Linked DNA regions of Homo sapiens. The protein of the gene in region 4 purifies or fractionates together with the protein of the main gene of each other region. This does not show direct contact. Each region holds a gene or a part of one and is shown on either strand. Other genes may lie near its edges.

Evidence for each region.
Region 1: the proteins of TBC1D2 (region 4) and HMMR purify together in Homo sapiens (affinity purification with mass spectrometry; one large-scale study listed by BioGRID and IntAct). This does not show direct contact.
Region 2: the proteins of TBC1D2 (region 4) and ISCA1 purify together in Homo sapiens (affinity purification with mass spectrometry; one large-scale study listed by BioGRID and IntAct). This does not show direct contact.
Region 3: the proteins of TBC1D2 (region 4) and FAM83D purify together in Homo sapiens (affinity purification with mass spectrometry; one large-scale study listed by BioGRID and IntAct). This does not show direct contact.

The regions. Positions count from the first base shown.
Region 1 is NC_000005.10:163,482,222-163,490,014, forward strand, and holds part of HMMR (hyaluronan mediated motility receptor), read left to right. Parts: intron 1-382; exon of another isoform or gene 383-420; coding exon 421-567; exon of another isoform or gene 568-798; coding exon 799-951; exon of another isoform or gene 952-1,046; coding exon 1,047-1,146; intron 1,147-1,847; coding exon 1,848-2,024; intron 2,025-7,029; exon of another isoform or gene 7,030-7,162; intron 7,163-7,793. UniProt on the Homo sapiens protein: Receptor for hyaluronic acid (HA). Involved in cell motility. When hyaluronan binds to HMMR, the phosphorylation of a number of proteins, including PTK2/FAK1 occurs.
Region 2 is NC_000009.12:86,273,230-86,281,022, forward strand, and holds part of ISCA1 (iron-sulfur cluster assembly 1 homolog, mitochondrial precursor), read right to left. Parts: exon of another isoform or gene 4,988-7,793; intron 1,014-4,987; coding exon 960-1,013; intron 1-959. UniProt on the Homo sapiens protein: Involved in the maturation of mitochondrial 4Fe-4S proteins functioning late in the iron-sulfur cluster assembly pathway. Probably involved in the binding of an intermediate of Fe/S cluster assembly.
Region 3 is NC_000020.11:38,947,911-38,955,393, forward strand, and holds the end of FAM83D (protein FAM83D), read left to right. Parts: coding exon 1-90; intron 91-3,628; coding exon 3,629-4,610; 3' UTR 4,611-5,196; downstream 5,197-7,483.
Region 4 is NC_000009.12:98,215,194-98,222,986, forward strand, and holds part of TBC1D2 (TBC1 domain family member 2A), read right to left. Parts: intron 6,036-7,793; coding exon 5,640-6,035; intron 5,061-5,639; coding exon of another isoform or gene 5,031-5,060; exon of another isoform or gene 2,011-5,030; intron 2,005-2,010; exon of another isoform or gene 1,728-2,004; intron 379-1,727; exon of another isoform or gene 1-378. UniProt on the Homo sapiens protein: Acts as a GTPase-activating protein for RAB7A. Signal effector acting as a linker between RAC1 and RAB7A, leading to RAB7A inactivation and subsequent inhibition of cadherin degradation and reduced cell-cell adhesion.

The DNA.
Region 1 (7,793 bases), on a different chromosome or scaffold from region 4:
GGACACCTTTAATGGTTCCCGTCTGTCCGCCAGGTAAGCCCACTGTGCCCTGCGGTGATGACCCTCATGCCACCAGCTTCTGCTCCAGCCTTTCTTACTCATTAGGCTCTAGTCTCACTTCTTATTTTTTAAATTGTGAGTAATTTTCATGCTTGGTAGTTGATTTCTTTTCCATCTCTGTATGCATACTTCCTGCACCTAGTAGGCACTTGATTTTTTTTTCTTTGAATACACAGCAGATGCCATGTAAACTCATTAGTACTTGCCTCAGAACACTGAATTCTTACCTGTGTTAAATGCATGAATACATTAAAAACTTTTTAGTTTTACTTAGAAGTATATAAAGTGTAAACTAATCAGTTATGATTGTCATACGCAATAGTTAGAAAACTACTTTGACTTTTTTTTCTTTTTAATAAGCTATAAAGCGTTAACAGCCAGTGAGATAGAAGATCTTAAGCTGGAGAACTCATCATTACAGGAAAAAGCGGCCAAGGCTGGGAAAAATGCAGAGGATGTTCAGCATCAGATTTTGGCAACTGAGAGCTCAAATCAAGAATATGTAAGGTATATAGAGCAAATAATGGCCTTAGAACCATTAAGACAATTTAATGTTGAAAGCCAGCTAGTAACTGTCCCTTGGCTTGCTTTTGGCCATCTTATACTGCAAATTAAGAATTTACTCAGTTAAAAAATGACACTTCTTGAAGAGTTCCTTGAGGTTTAAAGAAAAAAAAAGGAAAAATTAATGAAAGTGGCTATAAAATGTTTAGTGACCTCTTCTCTCTCAAACCAAAGGATGCTTCTAGATCTGCAGACCAAGTCAGCACTAAAGGAAACAGAAATTAAAGAAATCACAGTTTCTTTTCTTCAAAAAATAACTGATTTGCAGAACCAACTCAAGCAACAGGAGGAAGACTTTAGAAAACAGCTGGAAGATGAAGAAGGAAGGTAATCTATGATTAGAACCTGAGTGCCTTGTTAACTCAGTTACGATGTGATTTTTTAAATAACTATGTTTTTCTCAATTTAATTCTTCCATGCAGAAAAGCTGAAAAAGAAAATACAACAGCAGAATTAACTGAAGAAATTAACAAGTGGCGTCTCCTCTATGAAGAACTATATAATAAAACAAAACCTTTTCAGGTTTGTCAGTTAGGAGTAAACTTACTTGTGTTTATTTTAGGGACTCACTTTGTTCCCTATTATAGTGAGGACAGTGACTCGGGTTTTCTGCAAGATCATTTTGCTCTGCACTTACAGTGCCAATTTAGCTCACTATTAAAGGTTTATACATTTTATTAAATTATGCATAATTTTTTCCCACATTATTGAAGTATAATTGACAAATTTAATTGACATAATTTTTTCAATGGACCCTTTGTGGTTTAAAAAAAAACTTTGTAATGTGGAACTTAAAAGTTTGGCTCAGAGGGCTTGCCTGGTATGAGCTTTTGATAATTAACCTATTTTAATTTGTGGTATGACTTATTGCAAATACTCATTGTTTCTCAATATACTGATCTTTTAAAAGAAAAAAGAATAAATGCTGATTTTGGAACTTAGAAGTACAGTATTGGTTATAATGTGGTAATCTAACTGATACAGATAAAACTGGCCAGCTGGCTTTTTTACCTTGTTTCTTTTCCTCTGTTTTAATGATCTTTAAAATGAAAAATACAAAGTTTAAAAGATTCTCATAGAGAATCTATGGAGAGCCCTGAGAATATGTGAACATACCTTGTTTTCATTTGTGTTTTTAATTTTCTTTAGTGTTTATGGTTTATATGAAACTAGTAAGATCAAACTGTTTTAAGTCTTAACTTTATTTAAAAAATCTTTTTCAGCTACAACTAGATGCTTTTGAAGTAGAAAAACAGGCATTGTTGAATGAACATGGTGCAGCTCAGGAACAGCTAAATAAAATAAGAGATTCATATGCTAAATTATTGGGTCATCAGAATTTGAAACAAAAAATCAAGCATGTTGTGAAGTTGAAAGATGAAAATAGCCAACTCAAATCGGTTTGTAAAATGACTTTTCATTTTATTAAAGATATTGGAGTGGGGGTTATTCTAACTATAATACTTAAATAAAATGAATATCTTTGGTATCAGAAAAAAATAACTGTTTATAGAGGAAAATTGAGCTGTGATTTAGTGGATTTATTTTAGAGTGTTGACCAGATGGGCATTCAATGTTCTAAAGTTTTCTAGCTACCTTCTTAATATATTGAAAATTACTTGAGTAATTGGATGAATTCATTAAGCTTTACATATCTATTTCCATTTGCAAAACTGCAAACTCCTTGATGTAAAACCATAAAGAGAAGCAGTGTTCAAAAATATTTGGGCATTTAAATTTTTTAACATATGTATTGAGATATAATTGACAACCCATACAATCCACCCATTGAAAGTGGACAATTCAGTGTTTTTTAGTATACTCACAGATTTGTGCAACCATCACCATAGTCAATTTTAGGACATTTTCATCACCTCAAAATGAAACCTTGTTATCCTTTTCCTAACACTCTCCTATCTCCTCACCCCACCCCACCCTTCAGCCCTAAGAAACCACTAATCTACTTTCTGTCTCTGTTGATTTCCCTATTGTGGACCTGGCATATTCATGGATTCAAATAATATGTGGCCTTTTGTTACTGGCTTCTTTCAGTCAATTAGCATAATATTTTCAAGATTCACCTGTGTTGTAGCATGGAGAGTACTTTATTTTTTTTATAGCCTAATAATTCATTATGTGGGTATACCACATTTTATTTATTCGTTTGTCAGTTGATAAACACTTGTTTGCACATTTTTGGCTATTATGAATAATGCTACCATAAACATTCATGTACAAGTTTTTGTATGGACATTTGTTTTTTCCTGGGACATATTATTTCCCTGGGAAATAATAGGAGGGAAATTGCCAGATCATTTGATAACTCTACATTTAATCATTTCAGGAAGTATCAGACTACATTCAGATGAGATCGGGTGCGTTCAGGGTGGTATGGCCATAGAAAGGTCAGGCTGTATTCAAAAGTGGCTCATACCAATCTATATTCTACAGGCGGTGTACGAGGGTTCCAATTTCTCCACATTCTTACCAACATTTGTTATTATCTGACTTCTTTATCCTAGCCATTGTAGTGGGTATGAAGTGGTATCTCATTAACTTAACTTGCATTTTCTTAATTGGTAATGATGTTGGTCATCTTTTCATGTGCTTACTGGCCATTTGTATATCTTCATGAAAGAAATGTCTGTTTATACTCTGCTCATTTTTAAATTGGATTATTAGTCTTTTTATTATTGTGAGAATTCTTCATCAATTCTGGACACAAGTCTCTTATGTATTATTTGCGAATATCTTCTCCCATTCTGTGCATTGTCTTTTCACTTTCTTGATGATGTCCTTTGACCCAAAAAACTTTTATGACGTCCAGTGTGTCTATTTTTTTGTTTGTTCGTTCCTTGGTATCTATCTCCTCTGCCAAATTCAAGGTCAGGAAGATTTACCCCTGTGTTTTCTTCTAAGAGATTTATAGTTTTAGCTCTTACATTTAGATTATTGATTGATTTTGAGTTAATTTTTGTATGTGGTGTGAGGTAAGGGTCCAGCTTCATTCTTTAGCATGTGGACATGCAATAGTCCCCACACTATTTTTTAAAGAGAATATTCTTGCCTCCAGTTAATGGAGTTAGCATCCAATTAAAAAATCATTTAGACTGTACATGTATGGATTTATTTCTAGACTCTCAACTGTCTTCCATTGATCTATACATCTATCCTTGTGCCACCACACTGTCTTGATTACTGTTGTTTTGTAGTAAGTTTTGAAATCAGGAAGCGTGAGTCCTCTTTGTATTTTTCAATATGGTTTTGTCTATTCTGGACCTCTTGCAATTCTATATTAATTTTGGAATCAGTTTTTCTACAAAGAAACCAGCTGGGATTCTGATGGGAATTGCATTGAATCTGTAGATCAGTTTGGGACATATTATTATCTTCACTAGGTTAAGTCTTCTAATACATGAATATGGGATATTTTTCCAATTATTTAGATCTCATTTAATTTCTTTCAACAATGTTTTATAGTTTTCAGAGTATAAGTTTTCCACTTCTCTTGTTAAATTTATTACTATTTTATTCTTTTTGATGTTTTGTAAATGAAATTGTTAATTTCATTTTTGGATTGTTGATTGCCAGTGTATAGAAATACAATTGATTTTAATATATTTATCTTGTATCCTGCACCCTTGCTAAACTCATTTTAGTTCTAATAGTTTTTTAGTGGATTCCTTAGGATGTTCTTATAGATCATGTCTTTTGCAAATAGAGATAGTGTTACTTATTTTCCAATCTGGATGCCTTTTATTTCTTTTTCTTGTCTAATATCTCTGGCTAAAACCTGTAGTATAATACAGTGTTGAATTTAGAAGTAATGAAAATGGATGGACAGCCTTGCTTTGTTCCTGATCTAGGGGGAAAGCATTCAGTCTTTCTCCATGATATATGATGTTACCTGTATGATGTATATAGCGTGACATTATTAGATGTTGATTTGTTGGCCAGCCGAGGTGGCTTACGCCTATAATCCCAGCACTCTGGGAGGCCAAGGCAGGTGGATCACCTGAGGTCAGGAGTTTGAGACCAGCCTGGCCAACATGGTGAAACCTCGTCTCTACTAAAAATACAAAAGTTAGCTAGGTGTGGCGGCGGGCGCCTGTAATCCCAGCTACTTGGGTAGGAGAATGGCTTGAACCCAGAAGACAGAGGTTGCAGTGAACCGAGATGGAGCCATTGAGCCTGGGAGACAACAGCGAAACAATCTAAAAAAAACAAAGATGTCGATTTGTCATAGATGCTCTTTATCAAGTTGAGGAAGTTCCCTTCTGTTTCCTAGTTTGTTGAGCATTTTTATATGAAAGGGTAATGAATTCTATCAAGTGCTTCTTCTATTTCTATTGAGATTATCATGTAATTTTTTTATTCTGTTGATATGATGTATTTTATTAATTGATTTTTAGATATTAATCTAACCTTCTGAGATAAATCTCACTTGGTTATGGCATATAATTATTTTTATATGTTGCTGAGGGGTTTTTTTCAGCCATATTCCTAAGATATACTGGTCTGTAGGTTTTCTTTGCTTTGTTTTTGTTTTTTTAATGTCTGTCTCATTTTGGTATCAGGGTAATGGTGACATCACAAAATGAGTGAGAAATGTTCCCTCTTTTCTATGTGGAATGGTTTTTGAATAATTGGTATTAATTCTTCATTGAATGTGTGGTAGAATTTATTGGTGAAGCCATCTGGACCTTGGTTTTTCTTGTGAATATTTTTTGGTTACTAATTCAATATCTTTACTTGATATAGGCTTATTCAGATTATCTCTTTCTTCTTGATTCGGTTTTCTTCTTGAGTAGTTTATGTCTTTCTATAAATGTGCCTAATTTGTTGGTATATAATTGTTCATAGTATTCCTTTATAATCTTTTTTTTATTTCTGTAAGGTCAGTAGTAATGGCTTCTCTTTATTTCTGATTCTAGTAATTTGAGTCTTTTTTTTTTAAGTTTCTTTCTTTTTTTAAATTTTTAGTGGAGAAAGAACTTTATTTTTTTGTTTGGTTTTTGGGTTTTTTTAGAGACAGGATCTCACTCTGTCACCAGGCTAGAGTGCAGTGATGCAATCACGGCTCACTGCAGCCTCAACCTCCCTGGGCTCAGGTGATCCTCCCACCTCAGCCTCCCAAGTAGCTGGGACTACAGGCGTGCGCCACCACATCCGGCTAATTTTTCTACTTTTTGTAGAGACAGAGTTTTGCCATGTTGCCCAGGCTGGTCTGGAGCTCCTGGGCTCAAGGAATCTACCAGCTTTGGCCTCAAAATGCTGGGATTATAGGCTTGAGCCACTGCACCTGGCCAAGAACTTTTCTTTTTTATAATTTCATCTTTTATTTTAGATGTGGGGGTACATATGCAGATTTGTTACATGGGTGCATTGCATGATACTGAGGTTTAGGGTATGACAGGTCCCGTCAGCCAGGCAGTAAGGATAGTACTCAATAGGTGGTTTTTCAGCCCTTGTTTAATGGCTGAAAAATCCAACATCCGATTACTCTCAGACATTTTTTCTCCTTGTGTCCAAATGTATAGGTTATACTTTTCTGTTTATTGGCATGCCTTGTAATTTTTCATTGGAAAGTAAATTTTTAGATCATATATTGTAGCATTTCTGGGTACAGCTCCCCCTCCTTTTGGGGGCTTTTTATTTGCTTGTTTGCTTAATGAGTGGCTCAATTATTTTAGGGAAACATATCCCACTACCTCCCCAGACCCCAACAGTATTGTGCCTCTGATGTTGCTGTTCAGGGAGGTACAGTTTTAGGTGTGCCCACAATTACCCTGGGATGACACTTGCTTTGGTAGGGCTGCCTTCCTCTCTTTCCGTGAACATAGTGACTGTAAACTCCAGTAGATGCTGGCTCCTTGCTTGATTATTTGCAACAGTGCCTTAGGGCATAAATTGCTCTATAAACTAATCCAATCAAATTCTGGCTCCTTTGTAGGGATTGCATACGAGAGCAGTGCTGGATATTTATTCTGACTACAGAAGGGCTCGTCCCAGCTGTCATATTCCCTAGTTTTCTCCTGCAAACTAACTAGCCTACTGTTCAGCCTGTATCTTAAATCTCCTCCCATTTCTCTCTCACTATAACCACCACTGTTCTTTAATGGTTCCCCAACCTTTTTGGCACCAGGGACCAGTTTTGTGGAAGGCAGTTTTTCCACAGACCGGATCACCCAGCTTGTGATGGGTTTATGTGGATGGTTTCAGGATTAAAGTGTTCCACCTCAGATCATGAGGCATTAGATTCTCATAAGGAGCATGCAGCCTAGATCCCTCACATGTGCATTTCACAATAGGGTTCACACTGCTGTGAGAATCTAATGCCGCAGCTGATCTGCCAGGAGGGGGAGCTCAGGGGGTAATGCTTATGCTTCCTGGCTCACCACTTACCTCCTGCTCTGCAGCCGGGTTCCTAACAGGCCTTGGATGGGTATTGGTCTGTAGCCCGGAGGTTGGGGACCCCTGCTTTAGAGCACCCTTAGGCTTCAGCTTCTCCAAGCTCTGTTGCAGGTGAAGTCAGTTCCTTTGAAAAGAAATGAGGAGCTCCCTGTTTTATGGCCTACTTGTCTTTTCCGCCCTCCTTTCCCCCTCCCCCGACAATATCCCTGAGCCAGGACTAGAGCTGAAATTGGGGACAATGGCAGTTTTCTCTCTGAGTGACATCCTCTGCCCTAGGAGCTGAGTTTTCAGTGGACTTGTGGGGAAGAGATGAGGAATAGCCTCAGGCCCTCTTGAGTAACCTCCTGGTGTAGAACCATCCCCCTCATGAGCCAGAGAAAGAGTCATCGGGGCCCAGCATTTTCAACACACTGTGCCCAAGGTGAGCCCCTGTTCCATGAATGGGGCTGACTGGAGGAAGGGATCCCCCACCTCACAATTGCATTTGTCCAGGATATAACTGCAGCCACAGGGAGCTGGGGACAAAATGAGAAACTCTGATGTCCTGGTCCTCCTGGGAGGGAAGCTTCTGACTCGGAGTTGGGGGAAAAGAGGGCCCTGTGCTTTTGGCTGTAGCCGTCTGGCGTGGACTTTGCCTTGCTAAGCTGGGAGTGGGAAGAGGGGAAGGAGTTTTGGCTTAAACACTGCAGACTCTCTTTTTCACCAAATTTTTGCAGATTTTCTTGAATAGATGTTTCTTCATTTGCTATTTTTCC
Region 2 (7,793 bases), about 12 Mb from region 4:
AAATATTGCAATCCATTACTTGAAATGATTTACAGCATTCCATCGGCAACTAACAATGTACAATTAAGATGATACACACATCCCTAACTCAACAATTCTGTATCTAGGAATGGATCCTATGTAGGTGGACTAAGCCATGCTTACAGTTCTAGAACAATGAGCCTGGCACACTGCAGACACTAAATAGTTGCTGAATGGTGTTTGCGGCAGCACTGAATGAAAACGACCCTTTAATATGGGGACTGGTTAAAGAACTCAAACTTGTTCAATGGAATATACTCTACATGCAGCCAAGAAAGGGAGGCAGATCATTACATAATGACATGGAAAGATCTTCAAGCCATTATTAAGGGTAAAAAGCAAAGTGTAACAAAAAAATTTATGGTAGGAAGAGATATACACAGGAATAACAAGCCCAGTCTAGGCCAGTGGTTGCCCTCAGGGAGACATTTTTGGTTGTGACAACCAAAGCTTTGTGGAATCAGGAACTGCTGGTGAAATAGTACTCACCATACTTTTACTCTATACAGTCACCTCTCCGTATCGGTGGGTTCCACATATGTGGATTCTTTGGTTGAGGCAAAGAGGGGGTACTACTGGTATCTAATGGACAGAGGCCACAGATGCTGTCAAACATTCTACAATCTGCCCTAAAGTGTCAACTGTGAGGAGGCTGAGAAAATCAGGTCTAGCCGCTTCAAATGTATACATTATCCCTGGAAGGATACCAAAGAGATTGCTTCTTGGAAGGAAGAATGACGACGAAGAGTCAGGTTGAAAGAATGACTTCCTTTTAGTTAAATACCCTTTTGTATTATTTGAATTTTTTAAAAATCCTGAGTATATTTTACATTTTAAATAAAAACCCCTAAATGAAATAATACTGTATATCATGGGATAAATTCATTCTGAAAATGCAGCTTCAGTTTTTTACTGAATAATTAACTGGTTTTACTTACATGCTCAGGCTTATCTTTAAGAAGTTGTTTTATCTTGTTTACTGCTGAAGGTGTCTGAAAAAAGAAAATGATGTTTTTAGCTACAAAACTTGTTATTCAAAGCCTCATATTTATCAGTCTTCGTAAGTCTGTCTTTAGCAAATTCATGTGACAAATTTATGTTCCATTCTTGCCAGGGTACCTTATGGACTTTATATAGAAACACATAAACTATACCTAATTCAAAATATCCTCTTTATTTAAAAAAAAAATCTGCTAGCAACATCCTTTTAATCTTGCTCCTCAGTCCAGGTTGGTTCCCTGTCCTTCTCTCTATGGTGCTATTCACTCACATTACAAATGCTATTTTTCTGGGCAGCATCTATTTTGTGCACCAACTCTATGCCCAGGAACCAGCATGTTGCCTACGACAAAGAGCCAATGAAGGAATCAAGTATCTCACTGGGAAGGCCAACCTTCAGGTGTTTTTCCTGTTGATTATTAATCCTACTGCTTTTTTTTTTCTTACTCACAATCCATTTCTAATCCATCAAAATGCATAGCTTGAGGAAACAGTGTTACCAGCATAAAATAACCCAGGGTGTGCTTCTTGCACCAGTCCCACCAAATGCTCACATAGATTTTTTTCAACGTGGATTAAACCAACATCTCAGGAGATCTAGATGAACAAAACTAAGCTAGTCAATGACAGAAATAAGAACAAGGAGGAGCTGTTTCCCAGAGAAATGCTGTTTTAACATAGCTCAGCGGGCCTCAAAATGAGAAAAACATCACAGTTTGTGTGAAATAGGTCGGTGTTGCCAACCCCACTTCTTTGGGAAGGAGACTGTTCCCCGACATTCCTGGCCCACTTCCTAGCTGTGCCTCCAGGGCAGTCACCCTAAGTGGCTTCTCTGACTTCTATTCCCTTACTGGTGAAACAGGGATAACAGTTCCTCCTCCTCCTGATTCTTGTGAGGATTAAATATTTAAACTCATGGAAAGCATTCAGGACAGTGCCAGGCACAAAAATACCAAGTATTATTATGATTATGAGAGTACATCATAATGAAGACATTATGTGCGTCCTTCCTACTTTATCAGCTCCTCTAGCTGGCAGTGCTCTGCAGGCCCTCCAGTCCCTTGTACTGACATTTTACTGTACAGTAAAGTCTTTGAGACTGCTTGTGAAGTCTCAAAGTCTGGATATTACGACCTAAGACTTGGTAGTAAACTGAGGCCAGGACTGACACCTGGAAGAGCCAGCCCAATGGATGGCCCTAGAGTGTGCTCTCCTGCCCTGTCGGGGTTGGGGCTCAGCTAGATGAGCATGCTTAAACACAGTACAGACCCAGTTTAGAAGGGCATGAAAGCAATTTGGAATGTGAAGACCAACATGTCTTAAACATTTTAAATAGAAAACAATGCACTGCACTTAAAAACGTGAATGTTGTTTAGTAAAACTTTTAATTCAGTTATTAATATATAGTATCTGTGTATATACATTTCTTATTACATGTCACTGTAAAAAAACAAACCACTACCAGTAGGTGGGCCTCTAAAGGCCCATGGTTTCCCATGGTTCTGTCAGAAAAGGAGGCATGCAGTCCTCCAACGCAGGAAGTAGCACACAGGGTGGAAGGAGAAAACAGGGAAGAGCAGGATTATGGTTTTGTTTTTGTTTTTTGAGTCACAGAATACCAACTTTAAATAGTTACAGAAATAGTTATTATTTTTTAAAGTGCTCATTACCCTTCTAAAGCAGTGGTCCCAAATGTTTTTGGCATCAAGGACTGGTTTCGTGGAAGACAATTTTTCCACGGATAAGGGGAATGGTTTCTGAATGATTCAAATGCATTACATTTATTGTGCACTTTATTTCTATTATTACATTGTAATATATAATGAAATAATTATATAACTCATCAAAATATACAATCAGTGGGAGCCCTGAGCTTGTTTTTCTGCAACTAGATGGCCCCATCTAGGGGTGATGAGAGACAGTGACAGATCATCAGGCATCATTCTCATAAGGAGTGCACAAACTAGCCCCTCACACCTGCAGTTCAGACTAGGGTTTGTGCTCCTATGAGAATCTAATGCCCCTGATGATCTGACAGGAGGTGGAGCTCGCTTAGGTGGTAATGCTTGGCTTGCCTGCTGCTCTCACCTCCTGCTGTGAGGCCCTGTTCCTAACAGGCCATGGACCAGTACCAGTCTGTAGCGCAGGGACTGGGGACCCCTGTTCTAAGTGATTGTCAATAAAAGCTAGCTTTCTTATCAACCACATGTAAATTTTCACCATATTTTCCTATGTGCATGCTGAAGAAATTAATCACTTACTGTCAAATAAAAATAGCTTTCTGTAAGTTTATTTTAAAAAGGCATAGCCTGGCTGGGCCTGGTGCCTCATGCCTATATTCCCAACACTTTGGGAGGCCGAGGTGGAAGTATCACTTGAGGTCAGCCAAGGTGGAAGGATCACTTGAAGTCAGGAGTTTGAGACCAGCCTGGCCAACATGGTGAAACCCCGTCTCTATTAAAAATACAAACATTAGCTGAGGATGATGGCATGCGCCTGTAATCCCAGCTACTCCGGAGGCTGACGCATGAGAATCGCTTGAACCCAGGAGGCGGAGGCTGCAGTAAGCCGAGATCATGCCACTGCACTCCAGCCTGGGAAACAGAGTGAGACTCTGTCTCAAAAAAAAAAAAAAAAAAAAAAAAAAGGCATAGCCATGGAAAATATCCGCGGGAACTAAAATCTGAAACGTGGTCTTGGTTTAATCTGAGTGGATCAAAGGCACAGATGGGCACACCACTGCATGATCTAAACAAAACAAATGTGTCTGTCACACTACTCCGTTTACCAGCCCCAAATATATAATTTTTTTTATCTCCAAGTGGTTTTCTAAATTATCTAATTTGGTTTTACAAAGTCATCTATTTTCTTATTTTCTCAACTTTTAGCAGGAAACACTTAAATACAGTAAATGAAAGCAATTCGTGGGGATTGGTCTACTTATCACCAAGTTGCTGATGTTCACATCTCATACTGAAGGACTCTTTAAGGGAAAAGTAACATTCAACAGGAACCTGTGTGCCTGGGAAGCTGCTGTTACAGGAACTAAAATATGTCTTAATTTTCCTGTGCCAGGCCAAAACCAAACCTACTCCACTGGGAGGGTGTTACTAATGATGGACAACCCAGGTCAGTACTCAACCAAGGGAAAAGGTTCTTAGAACTTTCAAAGTGACTGATCTGATTTTCAGAACAAGGGAGAGTGGTTAAAAGGGAAGAGTTGGGACTTAAAAAAAATCGAGCTATAAGAGGTACTTTTTGTGTCTCAGTACCAGGGAGAGGCTAAGAATCCTACCCTGCTTTAAGTCTACATACTCTGGCAACTTTGTGCTTAGGTAAAATTCATGTGAGAAACAGCATAAAATCTTCAACTACACAGCATGCTGCAGGGCCTAGCAGCCTGCCAGTACCAGTGCACTTCCCAGAACAACTAAGAAACATGTAATTCTCAAGAAATTTATGTACTATTAATGAATATAGCTTACCTGAGATTTGGCCCATGTTTTAAAATTTAAGAGCTTCCTGAAGCCCACTAAAATATGATGGTTTTTACTCACATGCAAATCACAGGAATATGACTTTTAAAGTGAGAGGTTATCTTTGAGGTAAGGTATTTTGGCCTAATTGAAAAATAAATATATTTCCAAGATGTTTCCGCTGTTAAAATTAAGGGAAAAGGCATTGTAGATGAATGTTTTATCACTACTTCATAGCAACACGCTTTCTAATCCTTGTAGGAGAAACTTTTCATTCTCAATCCTGTATTTCTTTAAGTAACTCCCCAGGCAATTTTCATTTTTTGCTGTTTAAGAAAATTAAATTAAATTCAAAGCTAAAGTTAACTCTGTGATTATGCATACTAAACATGTGCCAACAACTACAACTTAATTTCTCTACAAACATGGCATTTTAATGTCAACATATCAATTTTCTGGGGGAACAAAAGATGGTAAATAAATAGAGCCAGTGAACAAGTACAGTGTATTTTATTAAAATCATTCTTTAACAGCCATGGCTGGCATTAGAGTGTCAAAATAAGAAAAGACAAAAGCATTCTCTTTTGTCTTTTCTTATTTGTGTATATGTGTATATACACATCCAAAATACATATAATATACAAATATATATTTGTAGGCCAGGTGTGGTGGCTCATGCCTGTAATGCCAGCACTTTGGGAGGCCAAGGTGGGAGGACGGCTTGAGGCCAGGAGTTTGAGACCAGCCTGTGCAACAGAGCAAGACCCTGTCTCTACAATAAATTAAAAAAAAAAAATTAGCAGTCAAGGTGACATGTGCCTGTAGTCCCAGTTACTTGGGAGGCTGAGGTGAAAGGATTGCTTGAGCCCAGGAGTTTGAAGCTGCAGTAAGCCATGATCATGCCACTGCATATGAGCCTGGGTGACAGAGGAAGATCCTGTCTCTAAAAAGAAAAAGGTTTGTAATCATGGCATATATACATAATTTTGCAGCCTCCATTGAAACAATTTAACAAATTATTTTTTCATTTGATACATGGTAATAAACATATATTCACCATTTACTGAGCACCTTCTAAGTGTTTAATGGTTTAAACGTAACATCTTTTTATTCCTGCCATTGTGATTTAGGTATTAAAGATTAAATAATTTGCACAGCATAAGTCAAAGAATGAAGATTTATAACGCTGAAACTTAAAAAAAACCATAATTTACAATGACTACATCCTTCACCAACAGGATCTACTCTCACGTACTTAACCGTTCTTTCACTGTTAGACTGCTAGGCTACTTCCAGTGCTTCTTGTGTAGTATTTCCTAAACTGCCTTCGTATAGAAATCTTAGTGCTTGGTCACTGTTCAAAAGGACTTCTGGTTCTAGTCCAATGAACTAACACACAGTTCCTTACTGAGCATTAAGCATTTCCTAGCTTCTCAACTGGACTCCAATAGAAAGTTAAGCCCTAAGGCACCTTCCGTACACAATGAATTCATCAAGAATGATAGTGGCTGTGCACCATCATTCTCTCATAGAACTTGGTTGAGTTTTAATGCACAGCTGTGATCCACCCCAGTCCTACAAATTAGAGTTGCTCTGACTTGTACAATGATGGAAATAAATCTGTCTGCAAGCAGGGCACTATTTACTCTTCAGATTCTTTAATCACATCTGGCTCCTGCAAGTTCAATTCCACTTGTCAATTTCTAGATATGTAGGGAAATAGGGAAGATGTAGATAATCTGATAATGACAGCATTGAACTGTGTTATATTATCAGTTACTTTTCCTAGCCTTTTGTTGACATCTGGTAGACTCCACACATATAGCACTTTTCAAATGTTGCAACATGTCAAATTCCTAACATCAAAATTTATATATCCAGGTAACATTTATCCCTTCCAATCAGTTTTACTGAATTAGGTATACTTGTGTTTGCTCTTATCTGTCTCTACTTATTAGACCCAAGTAACATTTACCTCTTCCAATCAGTTTTACTGAATTACGTATACTTTTGTTTGCTCTCTTATCTGTCTCCATTCATTAGGCCTTTGACGGCATCACTACTTTTGCACTTGACGATACATGCTGATGATAAACTAAGCACAAAGAGCAATACATGCCATAGTGTCCTGACTAGGGCACGAATGCTGGAACTAAAATGACTGCAAGCCCACCAACACAGGCTGTGTGGAAAACAGCATTGATGTGCCTTCTCTCTGGTACAGCTTCTGAGAAGCTTCTAAAGTCAGCCATACTTAAGTAGGACAACAGAGTACAGACAGTAGACTCCTGCAAGTTAATCAAAACAGCTGAGTCAGGCAACATGGATACCTTGAGAACTGCTATGATAACATGTACTGAAGCAGAGGGGAGCAAGTGTGGAGAGAGACCAAGCCTGAGAATGTGCAGTGCTATTACTCCTAGTAAGAGGTGGCAAAGGCTTGGCCTGCGACTGTGCCCCGTAGGCTGGGAACTGTATAACTCATTCATTTGTCTTGAAACACAGCAGATCTTGATAAATGTCTGCTGAATGACTAGGAATGGAGAGAAAGGGACTGACATAGAAATTCTGAAGGAAGGGCAAGGCACGGTGGCTCATGCCTGTGATCCCAGCACTTTGGGAGGCTGAGACGAGTGGATCACGAGGTCAGGAGTCCAAGACCAGCCTGGTGAAGATGGTGAAACCCCATCTCTACTAAAAATACAAAAATAAATAAATAAATAAGCTGGGCATGGTGGTGGGCGTCTGTAATCCCAGCTACTCAGGAGGCTGAGGCAGAGAGTTGCTTGAACTCAGTAGGCAGAGGCTGCAGTGAGCTGAGATCACGCCACTGCACTCCAGCCTGGGCAACCCAGCGAAACCCTGTCTCAAAAAAAAAAAAAAAAAAAAGAAATTCTGAAGGAAGAGGTAACATGTCAAATGGTGATGGAGAAAGACATCAGGGACCAGGCATGGTGGCTCACACCTGTAATCCCTGCACACTGGGAGCCTGAGGCAGTGGACTGCTTGAGCCCAGGAGTTCGAGACCAGCCTGGGCAACCCAGGGAGACCCTAGGTGCATGCATGACGGTGCACACCGGTGGTCCCAGCGACTTGGGAGCCTGAGGTGGGAGGATCGCTTGGGCCCAGGAGGTTGACGCTGCAGTGTGCCATGATTGCACCACTGAACTACAGCCTGGGAGATAGAGTGAGACCCTGTCTCCAAAAACAAAACAAACAAAAACAAACAAACAAACAAAAAACAAAAAACAAAAAACCCAGTTAATAGGGTTGCTAAAAAGCAAAAAAGAAAAGGCA
Region 3 (7,483 bases), on a different chromosome or scaffold from region 4:
CTATGCAAGGTCAGGAACTAAGATTATTGGGAAGGTTCACGAAAAGTTCACGTTGATTGATGGCATCCGCGTGGCAACAGGCTCCTACAGGTAAGTCTCTAACCCGTCCAAGGCTTATTAATCTAAACTCTTCAGAAGAAGCATGTCATGTAAAGGTAAAAGCCTTTTCCTCTCAATGGGAGCCTGTATGGCCATGCATTCTGATATGCGTGCATCTGTGTATAGCAGCTGGTTATCAAAGCCTCCTGTTAGAGGCAGTTTGGGTGGGGGTCACTTCCCCTGTCCTGTAGTCCATAGATTAAAATGCAGAAGTTGAACTTGTATTGAGACAACACAGTCAGCAAGTCCTAGATTTCAAGCCTTGGCCCAGGTCTGCAGGGGACGAACTGGGGGTTAACAGCAACACACAGTCTGGAATCCTGGTTCCTTAGGGATCTGGACCCAGCTTGCCCTGCTCACTTGAAGGTAGGGGCAGTTGCAGGCATCTCCATTAGTGTTGAAGGCAGAGCCAGAGCTGTCAGCTTTAGACTCAAATCCTCCACGTTGCTTCAAGCCTTGTAATTTAGAGCTTTAGTCTAGAAAATACTGATTATGTTTCTGACCCACCTTTGAAGTGTCACATTGGCAATGGCATCTTAAGGTAGAGAGCAGGAAGGTTGAAGAGAGGGTGGGGATAATGAGCGGTTTACATGAATCTCTAGAATTTGTGCCATTTGTACATATGTGGCTCCAATGGTTGTATGTTCTGCCGCCTCTGCGGTAGATTGTCTGATGGTTTGCATGAGGTGTGTCTGTAGAATTTTAAAAAGAAAACCCCATTTTTGAAGAAACACACAACCCTGAGTGATAATTACGTGTCAGCCCTGGGTAAAGGTAGAAATGTGAAGGCTTGTGGAAAATGAGGCAGTAAGATCAAGAAAATCTTGACACCTTTCTTTTTCAACAGTACCCTCATTGCTCAGAACAAAATTTGAACTTTCTTCACCAAAGAGGCTGTGGGAAAAAACAAATTGAACTCTTTTTCTTGGAATTTCCTTTTGTAAGAAGTTTATTAAAAAAATTTGTTTTTAACCTAAGTAGGATTTATCTATATTAACCAAACTTAGCTACAAATGGACTTTTGCTGTTCTAAAATATAAAAACTACCCTCTCCAAATGAAATTGATGACGATGATAGCTTCCATTTGTTGAGGAGGTTTTATAATCTTGGTGTTGGATAGGTGCTTTATTTACATTATCTCATTGAAGGCTTTCTTTTTTTTTTTTTTCGTGATGGAGTCTTGCTCTGTTGCTCAGGCTGGAGTGCAGTGGCGCCATCTTAGCTCATTTCAACTTCTGCCTCTCAGATTCAAGCGATTCCTGTGCCTCAGCCTCCCGAGTAGCTGGGACTACAGGCATGCCACCATGACTGGCTAATTTTTGTATTTTTAGTAGAGATGGTGTTTCGCCACGTTGGCCAGGATGGTCTCAGACTCCTGACCTCAGGTGATCCGCTGGCCTCGGCCTACCAAAGTGCTGGGGTTACAGGTGTGAGCCACTGCGCCCGGCCCAGCCTCATTGAAGGCTTTCAAAAGAATCTTCCTTCTCAGGCTTTGAAGGCAGTTTTCAGGGGGACTTTGCATTAGCCATATCTTGGTTACAGGAGACAGAGTTGACTGTGTTCTATGATCTCTGTTTGAAACCTACTTCTGGTACAAATACCACCATTAGTGGGGTGATGGCAAGTGTCAGCTAACTCTCAAACGTACTGACTCGAAGAACCCGGAAGGAAGCATAGAAAGGTACAGTTGGTTTTCAGTTCATCTTGACGTAGGAGCCACACGCTGATCAGAACACTATATCCTGGTTCTGATGTTTTCGAGTTGACTTTTGTTCTTAGGCAGGCTCTCCCTTTGAAGTCAACGATCCTGGCTTTGTTTATTTTTTGTTTTTGAGACAAAGAGTCTTGCCCAGGCCGGAATGCAGTGGACGATCTCGGCTCACTGCCAAGTTCCGCCTCCTGCGTTTACGTCATTCTCCTGCCTCAGCCTCCCGAGTAGCTGGGACTACAGGCGCCCGCCACCACGCCCAGCTAACTTTTTTTTGTATTTTTAGTAGAGATGGGGTTTCACTATGTTAGCCGGGATGGTCTCAATCTCCTGACCTTGTGATCCGGCCACCTTGGCCTCCCAAAGTGCTGGGATGATAGGCATGAGCCACCGTGCCCAGCCAGATCCTGGCTTTCTTATATGGCCTTTAGTAGCTGTCTCCCAAAGGGTGAAACTCTTTCACTCAGAATTACTATCAATCCCTTCTGTCAGAATCCATTTGATAAAGAAAAAAGAAATCTCTGAAAACTTACTTGGCTCTGGTGGGATCACATGCCCACCCTGAATGAATCCCTGCATCCAAGGGAATAGGATACTCTGGCCAGTGTGGACCACATGCCTGCCCCTATTGTGGTTGGAGAGAGTATGATAATGAAAGCTTTCTGGGGTACAGGTGGGTGTGAGTTCTGCTAGCAGAGGAGGGAGGCGGGGAAGGGACACCGTACAGGCAAGGGCACATGGCCACTAATCAGCTCTAAAATGTTTTGAGCCATGGTGTTTTGTGAAAATGGCAGCACAGCCCCATGACTGTGGGTCCTCCACTGTTAGTGAGGAAGACTACTTCAGCAGCCACAAGGACAAGCTTGAGGGCAGGAAGGCCACTGATGTTGCCACTCAAACAGTAGCAAGGAGCAGGGCATTAGCAATTCATAGGGCCTAGGGTCTGATCTGGAGTCCAGCAGTAGCTCCCCTCTGTGATAATCCCTTTATCTGGTTTCCTTACCTTTAAGATGGGGGTGCTGGCCTAAATAGTTTTCTTACCTTTAAAATGGGGATGCTGGCCTAAATATTTAGAAGCCCTATTTTTTATTTTTAATTAATTTTTTGAGATGGAGTCTCGCCCAGTCATGGAATCTCGCCCAGTCATGGAATGTGCAGTGGTGTGACCTCAGCTTACCGCAACCTCTGCCTCCGGGGTTCAAACAATCCTCCCACCTCAGCCTCCCGAGTAGCTAGGATTACAGTCATGCACCACCACGCCTGGCTAATTTTTTATGTGTTTTTACTGGAGACAGGGTTTCACCATGTTGGCCAGGTTGGTCTTGAACTCCTGACCTCAAAGGATCTGCCCACTTCATCCTCTCAAAGTGCTGGGATTACAGTCATGAGCCACCGCGCCTGGCCCCCTTTCCAGTTTTTAAAAACTCTGAGGCAAGGACCAGGTGAGGTGGCTCACACCTGTAATCCTAGCACTTTGGAAGGATGAGGTGGGAGGACTGCCTGAGCCGAGGAGTTCAAGACCAGCCTGAGCAACATAGCAAGACCCCGTCTCAAAACAAACAAACAAACAAAAAAACCCTCTGAGGCTGAGCATTTAGTGTGTTTGTTAAACAGTTGGCCTTTTTACTTTTATGGTAACACACATAAATGTTATATATGTGTTAAGGCTAGTTAAATACATGCAAATGGTAGGTATGATATCACCAAATTTGTGACCCTTATGTGGTAAGATACCTGTACTATATTATTCAGATGGACAGTGAGTAAAACAAAATTGCTCATCCTTACCAGCTGCTGTTTGTTTCTTTTTAATCTTTAAGTTTTACATGGACGGATGGCAAATTAAACAGCAGTAACTTGGTAATTCTGTCTGGCCAAGTGGTTGAACACTTTGATCTGGAGTTCCGAATCCTGTATGCCCAGTCCAAGCCCATCAGCCCCAAACTCCTGTCTCACTTCCAGAGCAGCAACAAGTTTGATCACCTCACCAACCGAAAACCACAGTCCAAGGAGCTCACCCTGGGCAACCTGCTGCGGATGCGGCTGGCTAGGCTGTCAAGTACTCCCAGGAAGGCGGACCTGGACCCAGAGATGCCCGCAGAGGGCAAGGCAGAGCGCAAGCCCCATGACTGTGAGTCCTCTACTGTTAGTGAGGAAGACTACTTCAGCAGCCACAGGGACGAGCTCCAGAGCAGAAAGGCCATTGACGCTGCCACTCAAACAGAGCCAGGAGAGGAGATGCCAGGGCTGAGTGTGAGTGAGGTGGGAACACAAACCAGCATCACCACAGCATGTGCTGGTACCCAGACTGCAGTCATCACCAGGATAGCAAGCTCTCAAACCACGATTTGGTCCAGATCGACCACTACTCAGACTGACATGGATGAGAACATTCTCTTTCCTCGAGGAACTCAATCTACAGAAGGGTCACCAGTCTCAAAAATGTCTGTATCGAGATCTTCCAGTTTGAAGTCTTCCTCCTCTGTGTCTTCCCAAGGCTCTGTGGCAAGCTCCACTGGTTCTCCCGCTTCCATCAGAACCACTGACTTCCACAATCCTGGCTATCCCAAGTACCTGGGCACCCCCCACCTGGAACTGTACTTGAGTGACTCACTTAGAAACTTGAACAAAGAGCGGCAATTCCACTTCGCTGGTATCAGGTCCCGGCTCAACCACATGCTGGCTATGCTGTCAAGGAGAACACTCTTTACTGAAAACCACCTTGGCCTTCATTCTGGCAATTTCAGCAGAGTTAATTTGCTTGCTGTTAGAGATGTAGCACTTTATCCTTCCTATCAGTAACTGCTCCGTGTTCAGACTCCTGGTTTCTTCCAGGCTTACAGTGGACATCATCAGCTTCCTGCTTTAAAAAATATCTTATGTCCCTAATTGCCTTTCTTTTACCTGACTTTGTCACCTTTGTTGTCTTTGAATTCTTTAGGCTGCATATTATTTTACATGCTTTGTTTTGTCATGTATATACCAGGTATTGGTTTTATGGTTTAAACACTATGGATACAGGGGTTTGTTTTGCACAATTTTAATAGTCATGCACTACATAATGATGTTTTGGTCAATGACAGACCACGTATATGTTGGCAGTCTCATAAGATTATAATACTGTATTTTTACTATACCTTTTCTGTGTTTAGATACAAATACCATTATGTTACAGTTGCCTACAGTATTCAGTGCAGTAACATGATGTACAGGTTTGTAGCCTGTTTTGCATTTTTCTTAGGTTGTATGCTCTTCTGTTTTAAAGGTTTGAATCACCAGCATTTTTGTGATCAAAATCCTATTTAGAAAAAATAAAACTACTTTCTGTTTATCTCTTTAGAATATCTGTGTTCTTAGCATTAAATAAATATAAACTTGTGCTTCTGTACTTTTTCCCCCCCTCTGACACTTTTCTCTTTAAATCTGGGAGTATGTCACAAATTAATGCACCTAATAGATATAGGTATATAGATATCTATATCTGAAGGTTTTTTAAATAGTGTCAGGGTGAGGAAGAAGTAGATGATCCAAACTATAGAAGAGAAAATAGATCCACTTAACCTTCCTCAGCATCATGAATATTGATGTTACTCTATAGTTTAAGTGAGGAAACTGGCCAGAAATAGCAGGCCTTTGCACATGCTCTGCCTTTTCTCTTTTCGAAGAAAAAGCCTGAGCTATTTCAGTAGGTCCTTGGTACTCTGGTACTCTGCTTGTCTACCAAAGGAGGCGTTAGTGTATGTTCCTATATTCATTCCCAATATTAACTCTGGTGGCCCCATGGGCCTCATTTCATCAGCTGGGTGTATTGACAGTGATTTAGCCATCTAATATCCCAGAGTAGGGGCAAAAGAGGACACTGACAATTATCCCAGTTTCCTGGTCCAGTGGCAGGCAGTGTAATGGTTTCTACATCCTTCTAATCAGGATTGGTATGGCTGTGGAATCCTGTTTTTGTCTCATTCTCATGGACAGACAAAAGGGAAGAGAGTTAAATGATGCCTTCCTCCCTCTCCTGACTTAGCTACAGCAAAAAAGATCTATAACAGGGGAAGGTGTCTGCCACATAAAATGCTGATGCACTTGTATCATGAGTGTCCCTACACTCACGCGTGTGCCAGGACTTCCTTATGATGGTCAGGCTATTTGCTGGGTTAGTGCTGTAATCTGTGGCTATAAAGAAAAGGAAAGGAAGGAAATTGATCCATGTCTGCTTAGAAACAACTCTGAGCTAAGCCTCGAGTAAACATATTGTTATTTGAAATCATCTTACAGACTTAAGTCACTTCATATATGCCATCTTTGATCTTTGCAGCAATGTAGCAGAGAGCTATGCAGGTTAGGTAGCTGTTATTTCCAATTTTCAGATGAAACTGAGGCACTGATTAAGTAGCATATTCAAGATGACATGGCTTGTAAATGGTGATGCAAGAATTTAAACACAGGTTTCTAGATTCTAAGTGCAGTACTCTGTTACATGACTATTTCTCTACACGGAGTATGGAAGCAGGAGAGAGTGTACCTTGAGAAATGGCAGTTACTGCAATGGTGAATGGAAAACTAAAACAGCCTCATTAACAAACGTTAAGTACAGGCTGGGCGCGGTGGTTCACGCCTGTAATCCCAGCACTTTGGGAGGCTGAGGTGGGCGGATCACCTGAGGTCAGCAGTTTGAGACCAGCCTCAACATGGAGAAACCCTGTCTCTATTAAAAATACAAAATTAGCTGGGTGTGGTGGTGCATGCCCCTAATCCTAGCTACTCGGGAGGCTGAGGCAGGAGAATTGCTTGAACCTGGGAGGCGGAGGTTGTGGTGAGCCGAGATCACGCTATTGCACTCCAGCCTGGGCAACAAGAGCCAAACTCTGTCTCAAAAAAAACAAAACAAAAACAAAACAGCAAAAAAAGCAAAGTACAACAAAAAAAAGTAAGTACAAAGTCCTAATCTGTGATACTTCTTTTTGTTTGTTTTTGAAGCAGTCTCGTTCTATTGCTCAGGCTGGAGTGCAGTGGCACAATCACAGCTCACTATTTTTTTGTAAAGGCAGGGTCTCACTATGGTGCCTAGGCTGCTCTTAAACTCCTGGGCTCAAGTGATCCTCTTGCCTCAGCCCCTCAAAGTGCCGGGATTACAGGCATGAGCTACTGCATTCAGCCTGTGATAATGTATTTTAATTTAGTTTGAAATTTTAACTGAATGTTCTATGGAACTGTTAATAGGATGACATAACAAAGGTTCTGTGTTTAGTGTGAGAAACTGGGCCAAAGAAATGTAAACAAAGTTCTTTAATGCAGGACTACTCAGAACTCTGAAGTAATGATCACAGTGAATTTCTCAGAGCAGGGCAGGTATATGGCTTACCACAAACTACCTACCACAGAGTGCTCTTTTTGTGGAGCAGGACTCAAAACCATTATTCTCTGAAAGTGTGGCCAACAATTAGAAATAAGAGCAAGAGCCGGGCGCGGTGGCTCACGCCTGTAATCCCAGCACTTTGGGAGGCCGAGGCGGGCGGATCACGAGGTCAGGAGATCGAGACCATCCTGGCTAACACGGTGAAACCCCGTCTCTACTAAAAAAATACAAAAAATTAGCCGGGCGTGGTGGTGGGCGCCTGTAGTCCCAGCTACTCGGGAGGCTGAGGCAGGAGAATGGCATGAACCCAAGAGGCGGA
Region 4 (7,793 bases):
CTTGTTTGTGGCACAGGGACCAGTCTCCCATGAGCATCAGGCCTTTCCTGGACCACTCCCCACTCTCTCTGGAGTCTAACACTTTACTGTCTGGAGATATAGAAACTTATGAATACAGAGGCTGTGCAGGCTTCCGGCATCACCCCCATCACCAACACCACGCAGCATATATTCTCTCACTTCATCCTCCTAGCAACCCTAGAAGGGATGTTCTTTTATTATTCCTATGACACAGATGAGGCCTCAGAGGCTCTGAAAGGGTAGGCAACTTGCCTAAGGCACAGCCAGTATAAGGCAGATGTGACCAAACCCAGGTCTGTCTGATTCTTTTTGTTTGTTTGTCTTGCTCTGTCGCCCAAGCTGGAGTACAGTGGCGTGATCATAGCTCATGGCAGCCTCGACCTCCTGGACTCAAGCAATCCTCCCACCTCAGCCTGTCAAGTAGCTGGGACTATAGGCAGGCACCACCATGCCTAGCTAATTTTTTGATTTTGTAGAGACGAGGTCTCACTATGTTTCCCAGGCTGTTTTCAAACTCCTGGCCTCAAGCAATCCTTCCACCTCGGCCTCCTAAAGTGTTAGGATTACAGGCATGAGCCACTGTGCCTGGCCAGGACTGTCTCATTCTAAAGCCCTAATCACCAAACTTCCTGCCGGGCACCATCTGAGCTCCCCACCAGCTGGAATCCACCTGGATGCCCACACTCTAGTCCCTACCCTCCAAGCGTTGTCCTTTGGTGTCTCCTGGCTACACGCATGCAGGCTTATGTGACCTCTCCTACCCATCAGACAGTATAACAACACATCAAAGACGCTGGAGTTGGCCATGTACCGGCACCGCCTGGTGGTCAGTGGCATGAATGCTGCGGGCACGCTGTCTGGGTGGAAATTCTGTCTTGACCACTGAGCCCCTGGACAAGTTACTTAACCTCATCCTCTCATCTGGAAAATGAGGATAATAACAGTACTACCTCATGTGGCTGGGAGAGGATTCAGTGAGTTAATATGTGCAAAAGGCTCAGAACGGTGCCTGGCATGTGGCAAGTGCAACGTGAGCGTGAGCATCGTCTCCCTCACTGAGTTTGCATGACAGCTCGAGAGCTACTATTCCCCACCCTGCACCCACCCCCTCAGTCGGCTCACAGAGTTCGGAATCCAATGCCCGGGAAAATACAACAAGCCCCCCCGCAAGGGAGGAAAGGACCTACCATGACCTGACCCATCTCCCTCATATCCACAAGGCTGTGGGATAACTATTAAAGTGCCCTAATTCCCATTTAACAGATGAGGAAACACACACAGAGAAAGTAAGTTCCCCTTGTCACGAAAGAGAGCCAGGATCCAAACCCAGGTGTGTTCAGCCCATGGCAGGTGCTCAGCAGACACTGCGTAGAGAAAGCAGACCCAGCTCTGGCGCTGGCCACTGCTCCACACCACTGGGTCTCCCTCCTTGATATCACCCCTTCCTCCTCCCAGGCCTAGATGTGCTCATGGATATTTATTTATTTTTCTTTCTTTTTTTATTTTTAGAGAAAGGGTCTCACTTTGTCACCCAGGCTGGAATGCAATGGCATGATCATAGCTCACTGCACTCTTGACCTCCTGGGCTCAAGTGATCCTCCTGTCTCAGGCCCCTGAGTAGTTGGGACTACAAGTGTGTGCCACTACACCCAGCTAATTAATTTTTAATTTTTTAAAAAGGTCTCATTATGTTGCCTAGGCTGGTCTCAAACTCCTGGCCTCATGCAATCCTCCAACCGTGGCCTCTCAAAGCACTGGATTGTGAGCCACCACGCTTGGCTACACACTGTTATTTCTAAGGCTTTGGAAAGAAGGCTTTTGTCACATAAGATACCCTGCTTCCAGCTCTAGGGAAGGCACAGACATGCCGGACAGGGAGGCAGAGTGAGCACAGCCTGGAACAGCAGTGGCAGTGGGTGGCGTCGGGCAGTACCTCCCCCTCCAGCTCGATGCCCTACCTTGAGTGCTCGTCTTGGCTCAGAACTGTAGGGAGGAAAAAGAGAAACCTCAGAAAAGAGAAAAGCCACAGGACAGTCACCAGTGGAATGAAAGAAGGAAAACCCTGGAGAAGGGGGACCAGGGAAGCAGGAGCCCGGGAATTCTCTTTGGGCCATGCCCATGGACTAGGCCCTGTGCTGTGTGGAAGGCAGTGGCCTGGGCATGGGAGGCCAGGTTCCGGCTGTAGCCCTGCCTCTTGCTGCCTGACCCTGGGCCAGTCCTTCTCCCTTGCCCCAGCTCAGCTGTCCCTGCCAGAAAATGAGTGGGGCAGACTAGATTTCTGAGTCTTTCCAGATCTGATATTCAAGAGGTCAGTGATCCTGTTCTCAAAACCAAAGTCTGAATAACAAGGGGCATTCCCTAAAGTTGGGTTCCTCAATCACAGGGCAGGCAGGAAACCTCAACATTCTCTGTCCTCAAACTCAAGACAATGGATATTTGATGGGTATTCTAAAAGCTAAAAACTAAGGAACACCAACTACATGCAACTCTTTCTCTTTTTTATTTTTTTTTTAATAGAGACAGTGTCTTACTCTGTTGTCCAGGCTGGAGTGCAGTGGCGTGATCACAGTTCACCACAGCCTCGAACTCCTGGGCGGCTCAAGTAATCTCCCACCTCAGCCTTCTGAGTAGCTAGGACTATGGCGGGTGCCTTCATACCTAGTGAATTTATTTTATTTTTTTTTAGAGACAGGGTCTTGCTATGTTGCCTAGGCTGGTCATGAACTCCTGGGCTTAAGCAATCCTCTAGCTTCAGCTTCCCAAGTAGCTGGGACTACAGGCACGTGCTACTGTGCCTGGCTAATTTTTTAATTTTTTGTAGAGATGAGATCTTGCTATGTTTCCCCGGCTTGTCTCTAACTCCTGGCCTCAAGTAATCCTCCTGCCACAGCCTCCCCAAATGCTGGCATTACAGGTGTGAGCCACCCATGCCTGGCCTTATGCAACCCTTTAAAGCACAAAGCACAAAACACTGGGCCTCTGAGGATCATATGCAAGTGTATTCTTGGTTAATGTGAATCACATACCCAGAGTCTCCATGTAGCTGAGCTCACTGATAAAGAAAATTCATGGCCAGGTGCGGTGGCTCACACCTGTAATCCCAGCACTTTGGGAGGCCGAGGCAGGCAGATCACGCGGTCAGGAGATCAAGACCATCCTGGCTAACATGGTGAAACCCCGTCTCTACTAAAAATACAAAAAAATTAGCCGGGCATGGTGGCGGGCACCTGTAGTCCCAGCTACTCAGGAGGCTGAGGCAGGAGAATGGCGTGAACCTGGGAGGCGGAGCTTGCAGTGAGCCGAGACCGCGCCACTGCACTCCAGGCTGGGTGACAGAGCAAGACTCCGTCTCAAAAAATAAAAATAAAAAAAAATAAAATTCCTGAATATGTAAATTCAGGGGCACACTCAGTCTCCTAGTGAGTCCATGATTACAATCAACTCTCAGGCTGTCTGGAGCCACCTGGCTGATCTAGTGTTCTTTTTTTTCCTTTGAGATGGTGTTTCACTCCTTCACCCAGGTTGGAGTGCAGTGGCACAATCTCAGCTCACTGCAACCTCCACCTCGTGGGCTCAAGCGATCCTCCCACCTCGGCCTCCAGAGTAGACGGGAACACAGGCGTGCGCCACCACAAATCTTTCTGACCCCTGTGCTGCTCTACCGGGGCTTGCACAGTGGATTCCGGCAGTATGGGTGGAGAGAAGAGGAAGCCGCCTGGCTGGGGGCAGGCAGGGTAGAAAAGCAATCAGATGGAAGCAGTTTTCCCTGCTGTGTGGAGGGCTGAGAGCTTTCTAATCATCTGGCTGCATTTGCATTGGAAAGGTTATGTTTTTCTTTTAACCCAAAAGAATCTCTGATTTCAGACTAAATAAGGGAAAAGATTCGGGAACTGGTTATGTGGGTTTTCAGTCTTTGCTGAAAGAAAGGGAAGGGAATCAGGTTTCACGTCCTTTTCCTTTATCCTTCTAACAGCCCTAGTCAAGAGGACTAGTTGGGCTATTTGACACAGAGGTGAGCTAACATGCCTAAAGTCACACAGCCAGAAAGAGGCAGAGCCAAGAGTCAAAGAGGTCAGTCTGACTTCAAAGCTTGGGTGGTGGCCACTGTTCAACACTGCCCACTGAGAGCTTTTCTCTCAAAAGCTTCCTGATTTCTTTTTTTTTCTTTCTCCATCTGCCCTCACCGAGTAGTTCTTTGATAGAGTAGCATGAGAGTTCTCAAGGTTATAAGTCTATATGTACAGTCTCGTGTGGCTTAATTATGAGGATACACTCTGAGAAATGCGTCATTAGGTGATTTCACTGTTGTGCAAACATTGTAGACTGGACGCAGACAAACCTAGGTGATTTAGCCTACTACGCACCCAGCTAGATGGTGTAGCCTATTGCTCCGAGGCTGCAGACCTGTGCACCTGTTACGGTACTGAATACCATAGGTGGCTGTCACATAATGGCATTTGTGTATCTAAACACATGTAAACATAGAAAAGGTAGCATGTTGTGCTATGATGTTATGACGGCTATGATGTCACTATGTGACAGGGATTTTTCTGCTTCATTGTAATCTTATGGGACCATCACATATGCAGCCTGTTATATGGCATCTGACTGTACATATGTGGTTGTGAGTGGCAGGGTTTGGGGCAGGACGAACTCTGGTTGTATGGCTCCCTTTACGGACAGTGGAGGCTATGAGTGCACTCCACAGCCACAGGCCTCCCAGTGGGACAGTTCCTGTCACAACCCTTTAGAGAGGAGGCTGCGGGTCACGGCAGGCAACACACTTCACATAAAGTTCCTACCTCCTGTGACATCACTGGTCCCTGTGGGGTGGGGAAGCCTAGGGAAAGATAGGGACAGAGAAGGGGAAGGAAGGGGAGGAAAGGAGGAGCAGGGATGGTGGCAGCAGCTAGAAGCGGCAGCTGAGCAGACAGACCAGACCGCAGACATGAGCTCCAGCCCAGCTCCAGCTCCTCCACTTCTTCAGCACATGACCCTGGGCAGGCTCCTTAACCTTTCTCAGCCTCAGCATTCCACATCTGTAAAGGGGGAGCACACCAGCGGCTGCCTCACCTCACAGGGCTGGCGCGAGGACTAAATGTGGCGATGCACCCACCGAGGGCAGTGCCTGGCACACAGGAAACACCCTATAAATTCTACAGATGGGAGCAGTGACTATTGGCAGCTGCAGGTCATCCGTACAGTGTGCAGGCGCAGGACTGTGGGGGGAGGGTCGTGCTGGCCCCTTAGGGCTCTCGGGTGCACTGGGATGGCACTAAGGGAGGTTGACCAGGCCAGGCCCCACACTTAGCTAGTCAGGCTTTCATCTCTCATTTGATAATCTAGAGGCACCTTCACTTTTCAGTAGCCCAGGATACCAGGGCTACTGGTTAATGGGTCAATCAAGGCCCAGGCAAACTGCACTGGGCCTTGTGGTAAAGAAAGTGAAGAAGCGTAGAGCAATATTCCCATCAACATGTGTTTCTAATGTGAATATTCTAGGATGAAGGGGTATCCCCACTCCACCTAGCAAACCCTTAGGGGTGGAGAGCGCACCTTCCCTGAGGGCTGGGACAGAGGACCGGCAGGACTGGCAGGCCCTGAGGGGAGGCCCCTACCTTCAGGTGCTCTATCTTCCCCTGCTGGCTCAGGAAGTCCCTGTTGGCAGCGTCGGGGCGCAAAGGAGACTGGTCAGGGGGGTGCGTGAAGTCCTGGGTGACCTTCTCAGAGAGCTTGCAGATGACCTGCTGCTTGGCGTGGTTCTTGTCCATAAGCAGCTGCACGTGCTGCTGTAGCTCCTGCACCTGCTGCTCCCGCAGGCTCGCTGTGTGCGCCAGGCTCTCCCGCTCCTGCTCCAGGGCCTCCACCCGCCGGCCCAGCTCCGCGATCTGCCGCACTTTGTGCCGCACCAGCTCCAGCCGGTCCTTGTCCTCAGCCGCCGCCAGGTATGCGCTGGACGCCCGCTTCTCCTGCTGGGCGGCCTCCAGTGCCTTGTGCAGGATCTTCACTAGCTCCTGGGCAGGGAGAGGGAAGAATCTTGTGAGCTCAGGGAGGGCCTGCTGGGCGCCACAGTGGGGTATATGTTATCAGTAGTTCTCCTAACAACCGTGAGAGGTGCCCAGCAGCATCCCTGCGGCATCTCATCCTGACACTCACTTTCTCCTTCTCTGTTCAAGTGACTGTTAGCTGGGCACATGGTTCCCCAGCTTAAAACTGCATCTCCCAGCCAAGCCATGGTGAGGTGTAGCCAAGTAACTATTCTGCCTAAATGGGAAATGAAAAGTGAGATGGGCAGCTTCTGGGTCCTACCTTTAAAACCACTAGATACACGCTCCTCTGGTCCAGTTCTCTTTGCTTCTGGCTGGGAAGTGGCAGGAACTAGAGTGGCCGCCTCAGACCCACAGCAGAAGGTACATGTTGAGAAAGGGCTGCCCCCCAGCTCAGAGTTGCTCACCTACCTCTGGGTTCTTTAATGTGAATGAGAAACCTCTCACTCGTTTTGGGCCACAGTGCTTTGAAACTTTTTTTTTTTGAGATAGCGTCTCCCTCTGTTACCCAGCCTGGAGTGCAGTGGCACAGACATGGCTCACTGTAGCCTCAATCTCCTGGGCTCAGCTGATCCTCCCACCTTAGCCTCTCAAGTAGCTGGGACCACAGGAACATGCCAACACACCAGGCTAATATTTGTATTTTTTTGTAGAGAAGGGGTTTTGCCATGTTGCCGGGCTGGTCTCAAACTCCTGGACTCAAATGATCTGCCCACCTTGGCCTTCCAAAGTGCTGGGATTACAGGTATGAGTCACCACACCCAGTGGAGATGTTTTTGTCACAGCAGCTGAACCCATACCCTGACATATACACATCCATTTCAGGGATGAACAAACTGAGGCCCAGCAGAGAGTAGAATGGAATTCAATCTCAATTGGCTAGATTCCAAAGCCTGTGCTCAGTAACTAAGAAAACCAGGGGTGGCAGCTATGTGGCATTACTCTTCCCTCTCATCCCTGTGGCAGACATCACTAATTAATCTCCCATACTTCTTCCTGCACAGCCTACCCTAGTTGAGGCCTCAGAATCATTCTCAATATAGCAGCCAGTCACTACCAATCAAGTTGAGTCAGGGTTAAAGAGGAAATACACTGGCAATCCCCATGTAAAGCCACACACAGAGGACCTCATTCAAGCCATTTGTGCCTAGTTACCTTCAGCCCACCAGCCGATGCCTGCAAAGCTGGTGGAAGGAACTCTAGAAAGTTCAGAAACAATAGAGCTTGATTTATTCCTCAGCAGGGGCAACTAATTCACACAGGAACTCAAGGTCTGCTCAGCTCCCTGTGCCTTTAAGCCTGTAATTTCCCCAGGGAGGGCCACGCCTGGACTCAGGCCTATCTGTCCCAAAGCAGGGATGTGAATTTGTTCTGGGCCAGGATCAGGACATCAGCAGCCAGGTCCACGTGGAACTAATACCAGGTAGGTATGACTTTCAGGCAACACTGCCCTGCTCTGTGCTTCTCATTTGGAAAAACATGGTTTCCTAGAGACATGTCAACTATACCACACCAAAGTATTAAAATGAGTGGATTGGCTGGATAGCCTTATTTGCTAAGAACAATTCTATATTGGAGGAAAACTGCCAAAAACCATGACTTTTTTGGAGAAGCTAATGACAAGACCACATTAGCCTGCATCTTCTGAAACCTTAGGACTAGTGACCATCCTTTCTCTGGTTCTCTCTTTTCCTTCCACATGCCCATCCATCCATCCAACCTTTA